Regions from separate parts of the Homo sapiens genome. Here region 1 is linked to region 2. The links come from fine-mapping of genetic effects on gene expression. A gene starts in region 2. The other region holds a variant in brackets. All regions are shown on one strand. Distances are between the middles of the regions. Region 1 has its middle 4.4 kb from the start of LINC01954. Region 2 holds the start of LINC01954 (long intergenic non-protein coding RNA 1954).

Region 1 (2,910 bases), 4.3 kb before region 2:
TGATGCATTTAATGGTGTTCCACATTTTCCTGAGATTCTGTTCATTTTTCTTCATTCTTTCTTTTTCTCTTTTCTTCAAATTGCATAATCTCTATTGATCCATCTTCAAGTTTGGTAATTCTTTCTTTTGCCAGTTCAAATAAATCTTTTGAGCCCATCTAGTGAAAATGTCATTCCAGTTATTACTTTTCAACTCCAGGATTTCCATTTGGTTCTTTTTAAGAATTTCCATCTCTTTAGTCTATATCAATAGTCTCTATTTAGTTCAACATTGTCATCACACCTTCCTTTACCCTACTTTAATCATGGTTTACTTTACTATAATCATGATTTCCTTTAGTTATTTGAATATATTTATAATAACTACTTTGAAGTCTTTGTCAAATTTGATAGCTGGTTGCTCTCAGTTTGTGTTTCCTGCTTTTCCACTCATATATGGGTCAGATTTTCCTGTTTCTTTACATGTCATAATTTTTTGTTGGAAATGGGACATTGTAAATAATACAGCAACTGTAGAGATGGGTTCTCTTCTCCTCTGGGGCTTGTTAGTAATACTTGATTGTTTATTTGTTTAGTGACTGGCTGTGAAGTCCACCCTCCAGTCCCCACAAGTTAAAGCCTCTGATGTTGCTCCTCAGAGGCACAGCCTTGGGCATATGCACAGTTACCCTGGGTTAGCAGCAGATTTGACAGGGCTCTCTTTGATTGTCTTTTTCCCTGACCACAGCCATATGTTGTTAAACTCCACAAATTGCTGGCTGATTTCCCTGTTGTTTTCAACAATGCCCTAGGTTGCTCTATTGACTGATTCAATTAAATTTGGGCTTCTCTAAGGAATAGCTTTTTGTTGTTGTTGTTTCATTCATTAAATCATTTAGAAAATCTTTATTGACTACCAGCTCTGTGCCAGCCCCGTGGGAGGCACCAGGGATATGAGTGTTAACATGACAGCCCCAGTGCCTGCTGTTGGGCTGAACTGCCTCTGACCAGCACTGCAGACTCAGACGTATCACTGATGTGGAGACATGCTTGTGTGATATTTAAAACCTGCTGGGTAGCATTTTGGCAGAAAATGCCATTGGTACTTTCCAGATACAGACTGTGAGAGCCATTTCAGGGACCAGTTTTTTTTTTCTCCCTTCTTTCCCCCAACCAACAACCTCAACTTCTCTGGTGTGAGAGGCGGGTGCATAAAATTAGCCAGGCCAGCAAGAAAAGTGGTCATCCTGAGGCTGGCAGAAGCAGCTGAAGCTGCCCCTTCTGTGGCTTCACCCCCATCCTCCAGCTCACTGGCTCCCCGTGCCCTGTAGAGAAATCCATCCTTGAGAGGATTAGGGGCTGTGCCAAGAGCTTCACCCCACCCACCCACCCACCCACCCATCATAGTCCATTTTAGAGTGACAGCAAGGCCTTCACTGGGTAAGAGCCGTCTGACTCGTCTGCCTTCTGAGTGCCTCCATTTGGTGAGATGATAAAGTCACTGATGAGAAAAGGTGGGGCCAGGAACAGAGGCAACTGTGGCTTCCCAAGAGAAGTTTCTCAGGGGATTTCTCAAGCAGAATAAATTAGAGCTTCTTAGAATGACTCGATCCTGGCTGTGCATCAGGCAAACGTTCTCTTCATGGCTCATTTCCGGTTCTCCTGGCCTGAC[G/A]GGTGTTTCCAGATTATAGGTGAAAAGCAGTCACTTGGTCCCATACCGCATGAGGCCCACAGTTATCTTTGACAGCTGATAAGAAGTGATGATGATAAAGTCAATTCTGTTTCCTTAGATGTCTCCTCTCACAAACAAACAAGCAACCTTCACACTCCTTCCTGTGCCCTCCTGGCACCAGCACAAGCTACGTTCCAGCACAGAGCTCACTCCAAGGATAGGCAGTGCCAGCTCTTGAGCGTGGTGTGGCCTCTGCTGTCCTTAACTCTGTTGCACTTCAGCAGCACTTCCATCTCCCTGACATTGTAGACCAGGAACTTCTGTAAGCCACTAGGCCCCAGGTGCTTTGTGTTTTTGTTGCTCCCATAACCAATGTTGGGCATTAAGATCTGGCCCTTGCACCTTCTACAAACCCTGTTGTCAATACCTCTGGGTTTCCACCTGTTATGCTTCATTTTGACATACGTCTGACTGGTGCTGGATGAACTTCTTGGTCCTCTTTTTTATGATCTTGAGTTTCACAAGGGGTCTGAGGGTGGCCATGATGCCGAGTAAGAGATGGCTGCCACCACTCTAGGTAGCACCGAGAAAGAGGGGGATGGTGGCACACAAAGACTGATAGGGTGTAACCTCTCTGAGGGATAGCTTTTTGTTGTTGTTTGTGTTTTCTTTGAGACGGAGTCTTGCTCTGTCATCCAGGCTGGAGTGCAGTGGCGCGATCTCGGCTCACTATAGCTTCTGCCTCTTGGGTTCCAGTGAATTCTCCTGCTTCAGCCTCCCGAGTAGCTGGGATTACAGGCATAAGCCACCATGCCTGGCTAATTTTTGTATTTTTGGTAGAGACGGGATTTTACTATGTTGGCCCAGCTAGTCTCAAACTCCTGACCTCAGATGATCTGCCCACCTCGTCCTCCCAAAGTGCTAGGATTACAGGCATGAGCCACCACACCCGGCCTCTGAGGGATAGTTTTTAAGGTCAGTGTTTCAGATTTGTTCTTACTCTAGGAGAGATCTTTTTATCTGCTTCTTTTCCTGGTTCTTGCTGGAAAACTAGCCAACCTATGGCTTAGCTTATATCTTTAATGAATCTACTAGTCTTCTCCTAATTGCTTTTCACCACAGCCTCCATTGTGTTTGGCATTGCCTCAGCTTGGAGGAAGCCTCCTCCTTTCAGCTGTACTGGCCCAGAGCTTTGCCTCTGCCGCAAGGGATTGGGGGCAGAATGAGAAATGCTGACATCTTGTTCCTTCCAGGCAAGC
Region 2 (2,910 bases):
AATTACATGCCTTCCTCCTTTTTCTCTCTCTTTCCTGTGGGTTGAAATGTAGAGGTGATAAAATGAGTGAGTTTTTGTTGTGGAATGAAGATAACACCATAGGGTATTACAAAGCAATAAGACAGGAGGAACTTGAATGTTGGAAGCATTCTTTTTCTTTTCTTTTCTTTTCTTTTTTTTTTTTTTTGAGACAAGGTCTTCTTCTGTAGCCTAGACTGGAGTGCAGTAGCACAATCATAGCTCACTGCAGCCTCAACATCGTGGGCTCAAGTGATTCTCCTGCCTCAGCCTCCACAGTAGCTGGGACTATAGGTGAAAGCCACCATGCCCAGCTAATTTTTTCTATGTTTTATAGGGACAGGGTCTCACTAGATTTCCCGGGCCATTCTTGAATTCCTGACCTCAAGTGATTCTCTTACCTGGGTCTCCCAAGGTGCTGGGATTATAGACGTGACTCACCATGCCTAGCCTGAGTGCTGGAAAAGTTCTGTACTTTGACTTGGGTGGTGGTTACACAGGTGTATACACACATAAAAATTGATTGAGCTATTCTTTTAAGATTTATGTGCCTATTGCATGTAAGTTATACCTCAGCAAGAAAAAAAAGATAGAAGGAAGCTGATTCCTGGAATGCCCTTGTGGAGTGGAAGTCACCTTGGGACTGTTACAAAAGAGAAAAACAAACTCTTATAGTGTTTGGGTCATTGTCTGTAGGGGCGTTTTTTGTTCTAGCCATTTAATGTGTACCTTAATCAATATATTTATTAAGGGTAGGAATTTTTAATTTTAATTTTGACTCCATTACCCCATTACAGAGCTTGGTGAATAGAAGGTACCCAATATCTGTTTAATGAATGCATGTTTTTGTAGATGGCTTTTATCAGCATGTTAGAACATCCAGTATAAATAAATTTAGAAAACAGAAAAAATTACGACATGTAAAGGGAGGGACCTTCTTCCCCGACTTCCCAACCCACCTGACTTCTGAGTACTTCCTTTCAGTGGGATCTGGTGCAGCAGTTTTCAACTTGCTTAAACAAATGACAAGAACGTTCTGAGACAGGAAATGCTATCTGCTCGGCTGATGGTGCCAGCGTGGGGGTGAATGTTAAATGGAGTGCTTGGGGGAGACCCCTGATGCTCATGTCCCCACGACTCAGAATCAGACGCAGAATCACAGTGCTCTAGGTGCTGTTAGGCTCTAGGAACTGGGGGGAACGATCCCATCGCCAACCCTGGAGCAAGGCAGTGTGTTGTAAGAGGGGATGCTGCCGGGAGTGCTCCTGAGTCATTAAGGGAAGGCTGTGAACAGGAGGAGGAAGGGCTGACAACACAGCCCACACCCTGCTGAGCCTCCAAGGGGATGGCTCCCTCGTGCAGTCAGCAAACATTCACTCTGGGAGGACTGGGGGCTCGGCTGCAGAGAGGAGCGGCACACCCACCGCCTCTGTCCTCAAGGAGCTCCCGGTCCAGCTGCCCCCGGACAAATCCTATGTTACCAACAGTATAACAACGCAATTTTATTTACACCGACTAGATGTCCAGCACCTATCAGTAATACGCTATTTTATTTTCACAAACATCTGGCTCATAGATAATGTTTATCGATGAGAAAACAGAAATTTGAAGAGGCAAAGCAAGTTGCCCAAGGCCAAGGGAGAAGGTCAGCGTGAACTGCTACCGCCATGTTGAAGTTCATCTTCTCTTCACTGCGAGAAGCTGCCTGGACACCAGGGTGGAGGAGCTGTCAGGGCCCTCACTGTGGAAGGTGCTGGCAGAGGGTGGGGAGGTGTGGCCTGAGAGGGGCGTCCATAGTCCCTGAACTTGGCCTTCATGAATGAGTGGCGATCCAGTCAGCAGACAAAAGGTGGAATTGGAGTGAGAGTAGGGGGTCATTCTAGACAGCAGGAACAATGTGTGAGAAGGCCCAGAGCAGAGAAGGCAAGGCATGTGGCAGCTTGGTGTCACGGAAGCCTGGGGTGGGCAAGGGGCTGGGGAGGCCTGGGAGTTGAGGCCAGGGAGGCGAGCAAATGTCTGGTGGGGCCTCCCTTTGGGGTGAACCCCTACACTGGTCCAGAGGCAGAGGGTCGGTTGTCTGTCAATAGGATGAAATTCCTGTTAGTCGGGGTGCCCACTCATTCACTGAGCACGAGCAGGGGTCTCTGCGGGGCCTGGTGTTGGCCTGTGGCTTGGTGAGACACCCTCTCTGGAGGGGCACCCAGACTCTGTGGTCCCTGCCTGGCCCCTCCTTCTATGTCACCTTCCTGGGGTACCACAGATGCATGCCAAAGACCCCCACTTCTCAAAGTACGTTTCATGGCACACTGAGTTTTTTTGAGGAAAAAGGTTTGTGGTAAAATAAATGGAGACAAGGGGGTGATTGCCTCCTCCTTCTTGGAACTTCTTGCAGGTTAGCTTGTTCAAGTCTCTGAAAAGTAAAATGGTTATGGACGTTGTGTGTGTGAGTGTCCCAGTGTCCCAGTGTCCTGGGGCTGCTGTAAGAAAGCACCACGCTGGGGCTTGAGCAACAGACATCGATTCTCTCACAGTTCTGGAGGCCGGAAGTCTGAGATCCAGGAATCGGCAGGGCCGTGCCCCATCTGGAGGCCTAGGGAGGGTCCTTCCTGCTCCTCCAGCTGCTGGTGGCTGACAGTCCATGGCGTCTGTGACGTCTGTGGCATCCGTGGCACCTCAGGCTTGCTTCTGTCCTCATGTGTCTCTGTGTGTCTCTCTCCTAAGGACACAGTCACACTGGATTAAGGGCACACCCTAGTGCAGCAGGACATCTTATTTTAACTAATCACATCTTCAGCAAACCTGTTTCCAGTGAAGGTCACCTTCTGAGGTGCTGGTGAGGCAGGAGAATAGGGTTTGGAGGCGGGGAACCTAAGGCCGTTTCAAGCCGACTTC

The links. PIP is the estimated chance that this variant, and not a neighbour inherited with it, causes the effect. A credible set is the group of variants that fine-mapping cannot tell apart.
Region 1: its variant is the best candidate, but not a certain one, in a credible set for the expression of LINC01954 in atrial appendage (GTEx, PIP 0.63).

What each region holds. Positions count from the first base shown.
Region 1 is chr2:10,872,376-10,875,285 of GRCh38, forward strand. No RefSeq gene overlaps it. Among named protein-coding and RNA genes, the nearest start is that of LINC01954, 4.4 kb to the right of the region's middle. RefSeq lists an enhancer at 1,482-1,741. The variant G/A (reference allele first, on the strand shown) is at 1,652.
Region 2 is chr2:10,876,677-10,879,586 of GRCh38, forward strand. LINC01954 (long intergenic non-protein coding RNA 1954) reads left to right here and starts at 1,591. Exons shown (of 2, transcript NR_110575.1): 1 at 1,591-1,768.